Homo sapiens: one gene and its partners. The protein of the gene in region 3 purifies or fractionates together with the protein of the main gene of each other region. This does not show direct contact. Each region holds a gene or a part of one and is shown on either strand. Other genes may lie near its edges.

Evidence for each region.
Region 1: the proteins of STXBP4 (region 3) and SPATA2 purify together in Homo sapiens (affinity purification with mass spectrometry; one large-scale study listed by BioGRID and IntAct). This does not show direct contact.
Region 2: the proteins of STXBP4 (region 3) and HOMER1 purify together in Homo sapiens (affinity purification with mass spectrometry; one large-scale study listed by BioGRID and IntAct). This does not show direct contact.

Annotation. Positions count from the first base shown.
Region 1 is NC_000020.11:49,905,506-49,909,158, reverse strand, and holds part of SPATA2 (spermatogenesis-associated protein 2), read left to right. Parts: intron 1-566; 5' UTR 567-668; coding exon 669-1,004; intron 1,005-2,313; coding exon 2,314-3,540; 3' UTR 3,541-3,653.
Region 2 is NC_000005.10:79,402,482-79,406,134, forward strand, and holds part of HOMER1 (homer protein homolog 1), read right to left. Parts: intron 1-3,653. UniProt on the Homo sapiens protein: Postsynaptic density scaffolding protein. Binds and cross-links cytoplasmic regions of GRM1, GRM5, ITPR1, DNM3, RYR1, RYR2, SHANK1 and SHANK3.
Region 3 is NC_000017.11:54,971,664-54,975,316, forward strand, and holds part of STXBP4 (syntaxin-binding protein 4), read left to right. Parts: intron 1-3,653. UniProt on the Homo sapiens protein: Plays a role in the translocation of transport vesicles from the cytoplasm to the plasma membrane. Inhibits the translocation of SLC2A4 from intracellular vesicles to the plasma membrane by STX4A binding and preventing the interaction between STX4A and VAMP2.

The DNA of each region.
Region 1 (3,653 bases), on a different chromosome or scaffold from region 3:
CCCAGCTACTTGGGAGGCTGAGGCAGGAGAATCGCTTGAACCCGGGAGGCGGAGGTTGCAGTGAGCTGAGATCACGCCACTGCACTCCAGCCTGGGCTACAGAGCAAGGATCCATCTCAAAAAAAAAGTAAGCGAGTTAGTGTGTGTGAAGCTCGTCACGTGTCTGGAGCCTCTGGTACTATTAGCTCAGGGCCTTCCTCTACTGCGACTCCTTCCCCGGCCTCTTGGCCTGGCAGACTCCTCATCCTTCAGGTCTGTTGCTGTCTCAAGAGGGCTTTCCTAAACTCGCCCTTCCCCAACGAAACCAGGACAGGAGCTCCTGCTGTACTCACCCGAATTTCTCTTTCAGGAATATTAATCGTATTTTTCATTTGTGAGCACAACAAAGTCAAGGTCCATCTCTCTCTGGCCTCTGTTGTAACCCTGCTTGTAGTACATGCTCTGTAGTGTGCTGCTGGGGTCCAGTGTAGCCCAGGCCAGTTCTGCTGTTCATTTTGCCTCAGCGACCTGAAGCCGAAGCGCGACCGTATCGAGGAATGACATGCTTCTTGTTCCCCTCCTTCCAGAGCACTCCGCTGGTCCAGGCGGCAACATGTCCATGCTTTTAGTGATGTCCCTGCCTCTAATCCAGAAGCCATGGAGGAGATAAGGTAGCCCCCCTCGATCGGATGGGGAAGCCCAGTTCAATGGATACTAAATTCAAGGATGACTTATTTCGGAAGTACGTGCAGTTCCATGAGAGCAAAGTGGATACCACCACCAGCAGGCAGCGGCCTGGCAGCGATGAGTGCCTGCGGGTGGCAGCCTCAACCCTGCTCAGCCTGCACAAGGTGGATCCCTTTTATCGATTCCGGCTGATCCAGTTCTATGAGGTGGTGGAGAGCTCCTTGCGCTCGCTCAGCTCCTCTAGCCTGCGGGCTCTGCACGGCGCCTTCAGCATGCTGGAGACGGTGGGCATCAACCTCTTCCTCTACCCGTGGAAGAAGGAATTCAGAAGCATCAAGGTGAGGTCCTGGAGCAGCCTCCATACAGGCCCTCCTTCTCTCTTCCTGCCCCTGGCAGTCCCTCCTGAGAGGCTATGCCAGTCTGATCCCATCCATCCTGTGCTCTCAGATCCTTCCGGGCTCCGAACCTTCCCCGTCTCTCCAGCATCACCTCTGAACCGTTTCTGGCCCGGCTGCCACACCTTAAGCAGAGAAGCTGGGAAGGCAGGGGCAGCCAGGTTATGCAGGGTCTTGTGGCCCAGGGCAAGGCTTGGATTTGTTCTGAGTAGGCGGGGAAGGAGGCAGTGTGGGATCTGGCTTGCATCTGAAGAGGGTCATTCTGGCTGTGGTATGGGAAGTAGGCTGTAGAGGGGTGGGGGGAGGTGGGAGGGATGGGGAGAGCAGTTAGGAAGCTTCTCAGCGGTCCCAGCAAGCTGAGGGGTGTTCTGTACTAAGTGGGAACAGTAGAGGAGGAGGGGGAATTGAGAGAGGGATCCTGAATCAGACCACGCGGGGGATGGCACAGGAGAGCTGTCACCTAGCCAGGCTTCTTCATTCTGCCATGGGAGGAGTGGTAATCAAGAGAGGGGATGGCACAGGAGAGCTGTCACCTAGCCAGGCCCTTCAGTCTGCCGTGTTACTCAGCCCCTCATGGAAATACCAGAGAGGAACGTTCTGATTGTCACCGCGTTCTGCCTGTAATCTGGCCCCTTTATTCAGCCATGTTTGCCCAGGCTCTCTCTTCATATGGAGTAGAGTCTTCGTGCCCCACTAGGAAGCGAGAGGTTTTGCTTCCTGTGTTTAACAAAGTAGCTGCTGCCAGGCGCGGTGGCTCACACCTGTAATCCCAGCACATTGGGAGGCCGAGGCGGGTGGATCACGAGGTCAGGAGTTTGAGACCAGCTTGACCAGCACGGTGAAACCCCATCTCTACTAAAAACAGAAAAATTAGCTGGGCGTGTTGGCGGGCGCCTGTAATCCCAGCTATTCAGGAGGCTGAGGCAGGAGAATCGCTTGAACCCAGGAGGCGGAGGTTGCAGTGAGCCAAGATCGCACCACCGCACTCCACCCTGGGCAAAAGAGCGAGACTCCGTCTCAAACAAAAGAAAGGAGCTGCTGGGTCATTTCCTTGCACAATTCCTGAGTGCTTAGCAAGCCCCAGCTCCTGCGTCTTCTGCCTCCCGCAGGGTGAGGCTGTCGAGATCCTTCCCTGCCCTGCCCTCTCCCCGCCGCCCCACTTCAGAGCTGGACATCCTTTGCTTTGACATAGTCTCTGTCTTGTGTCTCTGACAGAAAACCCCACCTTTCTTTTCTACTCCCTCCCTTCTAGACCTACACGGGCCCTTTTGTTTATTATGTCAAGTCGACATTACTGGAAGAGGACATCCGAGCCATCCTGAGCTGCATGGGCTACACACCTGAGCTGGGCACTGCATACAAGCTCAGAGAGCTCGTGGAGACCCTCCAGGTGAAGATGGTCTCCTTTGAGCTCTTTCTGGCCAAAGTCGAGTGTGAGCAGATGCTAGAAATCCACTCACAAGTGAAGGACAAGGGCTACTCCGAGCTGGACATTGTGAGCGAGCGCAAGAGCAGTGCAGAGGATGTGCGCGGCTGCTCGGACGCCCTGCGGCGGCGGGCAGAGGGCCGGGAGCACCTGACGGCCTCCATGTCACGAGTGGCACTCCAGAAGTCGGCCAGCGAGCGGGCGGCCAAGGACTACTACAAGCCCCGCGTGACCAAGCCCTCGAGGTCAGTGGATGCCTATGACAGCTACTGGGAGAGCCGGAAGCCACCCCTGAAGGCCTCATTGAGTCTTCGGAAGGAGCCTGTGGCAACGGATGTGGGGGACGACCTCAAGGATGAGATCATCCGCCCATCCCCTTCGCTGCTGACCATGGCCAGCTCCCCCCACGGCAGCCCGGATGTGCTTCCACCCGCCTCCCCCAGCAACGGCCCGGCCCTGCTGCGCGGTACCTACTTCTCCACTCAGGATGACGTGGATCTGTACACAGACTCTGAACCCAGGGCCACCTACCGTCGGCAGGATGCTCTGCGGCCGGATGTGTGGCTGCTCAGAAACGATGCCCACTCCCTCTACCACAAGCGCTCGCCCCCTGCCAAAGAGTCCGCCCTCTCCAAGTGCCAAAGCTGCGGGCTGTCCTGCAGCTCCTCCCTCTGCCAGCGCTGTGACAGCCTGCTCACCTGTCCTCCAGCTTCCAAGCCCAGCGCCTTCCCCAGCAAGGCCTCGACTCATGACAGCCTGGCCCACGGGGCATCTCTGCGGGAGAAGTACCCAGGCCAGACTCAGGGCCTCGACCGCCTCCCGCACCTTCACTCCAAATCCAAGCCCTCCACCACGCCCACTTCCCGCTGTGGCTTCTGCAACCGCCCAGGCGCCACCAACACCTGCACCCAGTGTTCAAAAGTCTCATGTGACGCCTGCCTCAGCGCTTACCATTATGACCCCTGCTACAAAAAGAGTGAGCTGCACAAGTTCATGCCCAACAACCAGCTGAACTACAAGTCCACCCAGCTCTCCCATCTCGTGTACAGATAGACCGGCCTCGCCCCTTCCAGCTCCAAGGGCTACATCAACCGACCTTTCGGGTTTCACGGTGAAGAAGTACTAACGCATTGATCTCAGAGGCGGAGGCCTGCACTTGACCATGT
Region 2 (3,653 bases), on a different chromosome or scaffold from region 3:
CAAAGACAACCTCAAAATACTAAAAAACACAAATACTTTACCAAAATATTCCTAGTAAAGAAAACCTGGCAAGTGAAGAAATATAAAAAGTACTCAAGTACCAGGCTTAACGTGGAATGTTTCCAACCTTCATTATGACAGATACAGTTATCTACAGAAGAGTTTCCACCCATTCTCTTTTAAGGAATAAACATTATAGCCTGAAAAACATCTATTAAAAAAACCTAACAATGTATTACATTTTTTACGTGTGTCAAACCCTAAAGTACAATGTTATTCCTTAATGAAAACATATGAGGATGCTTAAATGTCATAAGGTTTGGGATATGTAATGTAGTATTTCTTTTGAAATTGTTTTTGATTTATTTCATCTTATTCAGGACCTTAAAATGTCAAAAATACAAACATTTGCTACAATAAACTGATTTCATAGGAAAGGCTAGGCCTACAAACTGGTTCTAAAGACTTGACTTCTGATATAATTCCAGTGTCATAAATAGAAGAAGACTAAAGCAATCACCGTTTTTCCTCATTTAATATTCTACTTGATAAGTTACTACAGTTAAGTACCTCAACTAAAACAATTTTCTACTACAAGACAATTCTTTTAGTTGGAAAGACTCCTCTTGAAAATTCCTTTCCTAACTTTCCAATGAAGAATTGCCTCATTAGAAAGAAAAAGGTTGTTTCTCTTTCTCATTATTGAAGTTTATTTCTATTAGTTAAATTCTACTAACCTCATCCCATTAACTAACTAGTGAGGCTTATAGCTTTCTTCAATCACCATTTTTTGGGGGTTTGATAAATCATTTGTATTCTAGGGTAAATTTGATGGGTTGATATTTTATAGTAATTTTAGCATATATTTTATTTAAAAAGCATAGTTTTCATCACCAAGATTTCTAAAGTTTATCACCAGAAATATGACATATTAGCATCACGAACCCCCTGATATGATGTACAGAGAATGACACAAGATTGTGTCTGTAGTATTCTTGCAATAAATGCGTAACTTCAGTCAAACAATGAGAAAATATCATATAAACCCAAACTGAGGGACAATCTGTAAAATAACTGAAACTCTTCAAACATGTGAAGAAAATGAAGGAAACAGGAAATAACAGTTAAATGCAAGGTGGGATCTTAGGTAGGTTCCTAGAACAGAAAGGGAACATTGGTGAAAACTGAGGGTTAGTTAGTAGTATTGTATCAATGCTACTGCCCTGGATTTGATCATTGTATTATGGTTACACAAGATGTTAACATTAAGGGAAGCTGTGTGAAGTGTATACGGGCACTCTGTACAGTTTTTGTGATTTTTCTATAAGTCTAAAATTAGTTTAAAATGAAAAGTTAAAAATATTCCTAAAGTTTACTAAGTGAGAAAATATCATCAAAACATGAAAGGATAGAATCAAGCAACAAGCTAAGCTATTAACTTAACAATCCATTTCTATCCTGAAAAGGAAAGCTCTTTTCTTATTCTTCCTTTGTGAAATGATTTTTCAGATTCATGTCTTCTGAAAAAAGCATGCATGGATTCACCTGCTCTAACTGAATTATAGATTTTTCTTTAAACCACCTACCAGTTTTTCCCCTATAGAGATGCGTTTTATTTAAATGGAAACTTCAATCTGACGATTGACATCTTAGTGAACTAATTTAAACACTTGTTACATGTCAATAGCAAACACCTTTAAAAATTAACTGGAAGAAACAACAATTATTTACTCCTAAAATCCATTTGTCAAAATCACACAATTATAAAGTAAAATGGATTACCACATATTTATAGCAGGAGAAATAATTTTAAAATGAGGGTGTTTTTCTATTATATTTATGTGGGTTTTATTTTATAGTCACTAGACAGTAAAATCCATCAAGCATTTTATAACTGCTTACATCACAAGTATTCAGTAATTATCTGGGTAACCTCGGACCCAACACTCAAGCACTTTGGTTCTCAGTTCTTTATATGTCAAATAAATAGATCAGTCAAGATCTGTATTATCCAAATATTAGCATGTGGCTATTTAAATGTAATACTTCAAAATTAAAGTAAAAAATTCAGCTTTGAATTTGAGACACATTTCATGCACTCAACAGCCACACATGACTGGTGGCTACTACCCTGGACAGCAAAGATAACAGAACATTTCATCATGACAAAAAGTTCTACTGAACAGTACTGTTCAAGAGGATCTTGACATTCTGCCTTTTCTTTCTTTCTTTCTTTCTTTGAGATGGAGTTTCGCTCTTGTTGCCCAGGCTGGAGTGCAATGGCACAATCTCAGCTCATGCAACCTCCGCCTTCCAGGTTCAAGCGATTCTCCTGCCTCAGCCTCCCAAGTAGCTGGGAGGTGCCCACCACCACGCCCAGCTATTTTTTTTTTTTTTTAATATTTTTAGTAGAGATAGGGTTTCACCATGTTGGCCAGGCTGGTCGCTAACTCCTGACCTCAGGTGATCCACCCGCCTCGGCCTTCCAAAGTGCTGGGATTACAGGCATGAGCCATCGTGCCCGGTCCTGATTGCCTCTTCGATTCTGTGCGTGAGGCTGAACTGTGTCCCTCCAAAACTCATATATTGAAGTTCTAACTCCCAGGATCTCACAGTATGACTGTATTTGGAGACAGAGTCTTTAAAGAGGTAATTAAGGTTTAATGTGGTCATTAGGGTGGGCCATAATCCAGTATAAATGGTGTCCTTACAAGAGGAGGGGATTAGGACACAGACACACGAACATAAAAAGAGACGACAGCCATCTACAAGACGAGGAGAGAGGCCTCGGAAGAAATGACCCTGCAGACGCCTTGATCTCAGACTTCTAGCCTCCAGAACTATGAGAAAATAGATTTCTATAGTTTAAGCCATGCAGTCTACAGCATTTTTTAGGACAACTCAAGCAAACTAATAAACATAATTTTTTAAACCCACATTATGTAACCTATCAATTTGCCCCATCTTCCTGAATTGAAGTACATGGATTATATTTCCTGTTCTAATCAAGCTGGCTTTTCTGTGATGAGCTCTTCTTCTCAATCAGATTCTCATTTTTTTCTATGAATTTTTGTCCAATTTTTTCTATATTCAGAATCTATCAGATTGCATTTTTTCCTTTCATTGATTCAAGTTTTCTCCAACAAGTATTTTCCAGTTATTACACCCATCCTTTCACTTACCAGCAAAACCTGGTGCTTGCCAATCTGTGCAAGCTTAGTCAATGCACTAAATGAAAAGTAAAGGTATTCACTATGAAATAAGTGCAAGGCTAACCTCAGATCAAATCAATTAATGAGTAGTAAATTTTATAACACTAATTTTAATAAAACTTTCAACACTAATAAAAACCTCAAATATAAATATTTTAGCTCTCACATCAGGGATGGAATTTCACACTAGTTTTGGGTAGTAGAATCATATGGAGTTTCTTGACTCCCATTTTAAACTTATCAGGCATGCATATACGGTAACAGGGATTTCATCTATAAAACACTGTAGACCTGGAACATGGAGAATCTACAACAAACCTGTTTAAGAAAAGGTTGGTATTCCTGAACTAGTTGCCTTGTTTTGGCGTAATTTACAAGTTAATACCGATTGGCAGAAGTACTTTTTATATGAGTAGTCTAGGTAGTTATAACACCACATCA
Region 3 (3,653 bases):
TCATTTCCATTTTAGATCTAGGATTTAATCCAGGATTACTCGTTGATTTTAGTTGTCATGCCTCTTCAGTCTTCTTCAATCTGGAATAGTTGCCAGTCTTTTCTTGTCTTTTTCTTTCCTTTTTTATTTTTATTTTTATTTTTATTTTTGAGAGACAAGATCTTGCTGGGTTGCTCAGGCTGGTTTCAAACTCCTGGCCTTAGGTGGTCTTGGTCTCCCATAGTGCTGGGATTACAGGCATGAGCCACCGCACCCAGCCTTATCTTTCATGACTTTGACATTTTTGAGGAATACAGGCTGGTTACGTGATTAAATGTGCCTCAATATAGGTCTGTCTGATGTTTCCTCATGTTTGTGACCCCTTGACAGGAATATCTTAGAGGAGATGCTGTGCTTCAATCAGTGAGTCCTCTTAGGCATCACATGATCTCAATTTATTCCGTGGTTTCATGATGTTAACTTCTGTTTCTTTAAGATTGGGTCTGCCAGGTTTCTCTGTTACAAGGTGAATTAGCAAATATGTCACATTCATAAATTAATAGGCAATGTGTGTTTTGTGGGGAGAATCTTTGTGTTTTGTAGGGAGAAGCTTTGAGACTGTAAATATTCTGTTTCTCATCATATTTTCTCCTGCCAGATTTCTCCATTGATGCTTCTTGTTTGAATCTGTTATCACTGTGATGGATGCCAAATGACAATTTTCTAATGTTATCAGTCCTTCTAGATTTATTAGTTGGCATTTTACTGTAAGGTAGGGTTTTCCTTGCTATACCATATATTTCTTGTTTATTCGTTTACATCAATATAGACTCATGACTTCAAATTTTAATCAATTTATTACTATTATTTTTTAATTCTGATTTCAAATTTTCTTAGACTTAGCCAATAGAAGCCCCTTTATGACATGTTTCCATCATTCTTTCATCACTTCCTTATTTTCTGGCACTACAATGTGCCATGCTTATCTTGTATTTTCCTGACCTGCCTTGGAATCAGCCTTCTCTGCCACGAATTTTGGTTTCTTTAGTGGAAAGTGGCATTTAGAAAAAACTCTGAGCACTAGAAGTGTTCATTACTAGCCTCTCTCAGCAGAGACCCTAGAAAATTTTTGTGTATAAACAAGTGTGCATATGTGTGTTCAACAGCAGGAAATCTGGCTACCTTTATCTTCAGTGTATGTACTTACTTGCTCAATTCCCCCCATATGTAAGCAAATTACTGTGGCTGAAAGCTTGGCCCTAGAAAAGTGAATTCATCTCTGCCTGGTATGTCAGCCCAAAGCTGAGTATTAAATATGCTGCCCACTGGACACCATCCAAACACTCAGCAAGACAAAAGTGACGAGGAAGAAAGAAAGAGAAAAGTGTATTTAGGAAGTTCAGCTCCAGACATTTTAGAAAGGGTAGGAGGAAGGAGGAAAGGCCAGTTAGGAAGTTTGGTTCTAGACACATAGGCCCTTTCACCTACCCTTTTCCCAAGCTCAGCGCATGGATAGGGGAAGCAGGCTTAGAATGATGAGTTAACTTGTCCAAGCCTAATCGGTTGGGTAGTGGCAGAGCTGGAGTTTAAGCCTGGATTTTTTCTGACTCCTTACAACTTGCTATTTTTACTGCGTCTTGTAGAAAGCAGCTTTGCAACGGATGACAACAAAACAACAACAAAAACACTGAAGCCTTTCTTTTCTATATTAGGAAATATTTCTTTACTTTTGTCTCAGGTAAAAATCATCATTAACGTGGTTAGATGCCTATTTGTAAGATGGCATATTTGAAGTTATTTCTAAGCTAGAACAAACAGCTTAGACAGAGTTGAGCATAGTAGGATTGGGGTCAGAGACCGAGGTTATAACCTGGATACAAGGAGTTCTTATGATGATGAAAGGTCTGTCAATATGCATAGATACAATAACAATACAACATTGGGAGATGCTGAAATGAATATTTTTTTCTCTAAAGCTTTAAATGAATGCATAAGCCTGGGCTGCAATTTTTGTGAGTCTGAGTGTGCTTGTAATAATACATAAATTGTTACGATAACTAATGCCAAATAATGGATTATACCATGAATGGAATGAGAGCTCCTCAGGGCAGGGCTAATCCAACCCTGTTTTGTAGGTAGAGGTGTTAATTACACATTTTAAATATCAAGAGCTGGACTGACATTTCAGATTTGACACCTTTAATTTGCAACATTATTCTTCAGCAATAAACGTTAAACCTTGTAAACTCTTTCTGGTTAGCTATAATCATGTCCAATTTTATATATTAGGTAAAGTAAGTTATATAAGTTATTTTTCATATAAGCCATTTTGATATTCACATAATGTTTTCTTATCTGATTATTGATTTTTAGGCTTTCTATGGATTATAAAGATGTATTATTTTAAATTTTGGTATTTTTAATCCATAACATAAGTTAAGGAAATTGGGACTTCAGTCTTAATATGGTGGTCGTCACTGAACTGTATTTTCTAGTGGTTTTCCTGATAAAGCTCCTGAATCCATTTAACGATGTGAAATACCTAACAATAATTCTGACAATACTCACAACTGTTTATTTGGTAGCTATTTTTATCACAATACTTGTATCTAAAAGAATAAGAATAATGTATTTGAATAAATAGTAAGTACAAATATATGGTGTTTGCTTAAGAAAAGGCAGGGTAATCATTGTTTTCCAATTAGTGCACAATAATGCCCTGAAGTCGTCTCAGTCAGTTTTGATACCCTAGTTTCTTATTTTCTGGCAGTGGCCTCTGTGCCATCTTTTTGAGGAACTACTCCGTTTAAAAGCTCTTGATTAAGTTTATATGATTGACAGATAATGTGAAAGGAAAACAGAAATCATTTATCAATAGAAGGCATTTATTAATTCAAGTAATGTTTATCAAGATCAGGGCCAGCTTCATGAAAATATGACCTGTGCAGTCACACAAGGCCCTACTCTTAAAAGGGCCCCTCACTTATGATGTAGGACATGCAAGCCCCCAAATTGGGGCTTAGCCCAGGAGGGTTCTTGGCTTGGCCTAGAAAAGAATTCCAGGGCAAGCTGGTGGTGTTAAACAGCAACTTTTATTGAAGTGGCATTGTACAGTAAGCAGCAGAGAGACTGCTTCTTGCAGAAAGGGGCTACCCCATAGGCACTCTGCCCAGAATAGCAGCTTAGAGGCAGTTTTGCAAACTCATAGTTATACCCGCTTTTAATTATATGCAAATTAAGGGACAGTTTATGCAGAAATTTCTAGGATGAGTGTGGTAATTTCCAGTTCATAGGGTCATTGCCATGGAAAGGGGTGGTAAGATCTGTATGTTGCCATGGCGATAGTAAACTGATGTGGCACACTGGTGGCCATGTCTTCTGGAAAGGCTTCTATCCAGGAACTTTTTAGCTGATCCTCAGGTTCGTTCCAAGTCCTGATTCCTACCCCACTTAGATAAGCCCTGTGTTTGTTTAATGCTCTACTGTCAGCATCTTGAAATTATTTTTTGTTTTTGAGACGGAGTCTCACTCTGTCACCCAGGCTGGAGTGCAATGGCATGATCTCGGCTCACTGCAACCTCTGCCTCCCAGGTTCAAGTGATCTTCCTGCCTCAGCCTCCTGAGTAGTAGCTGGGATTACAGGCGCATACCACCATGCCCTGCTAAAAATTCTT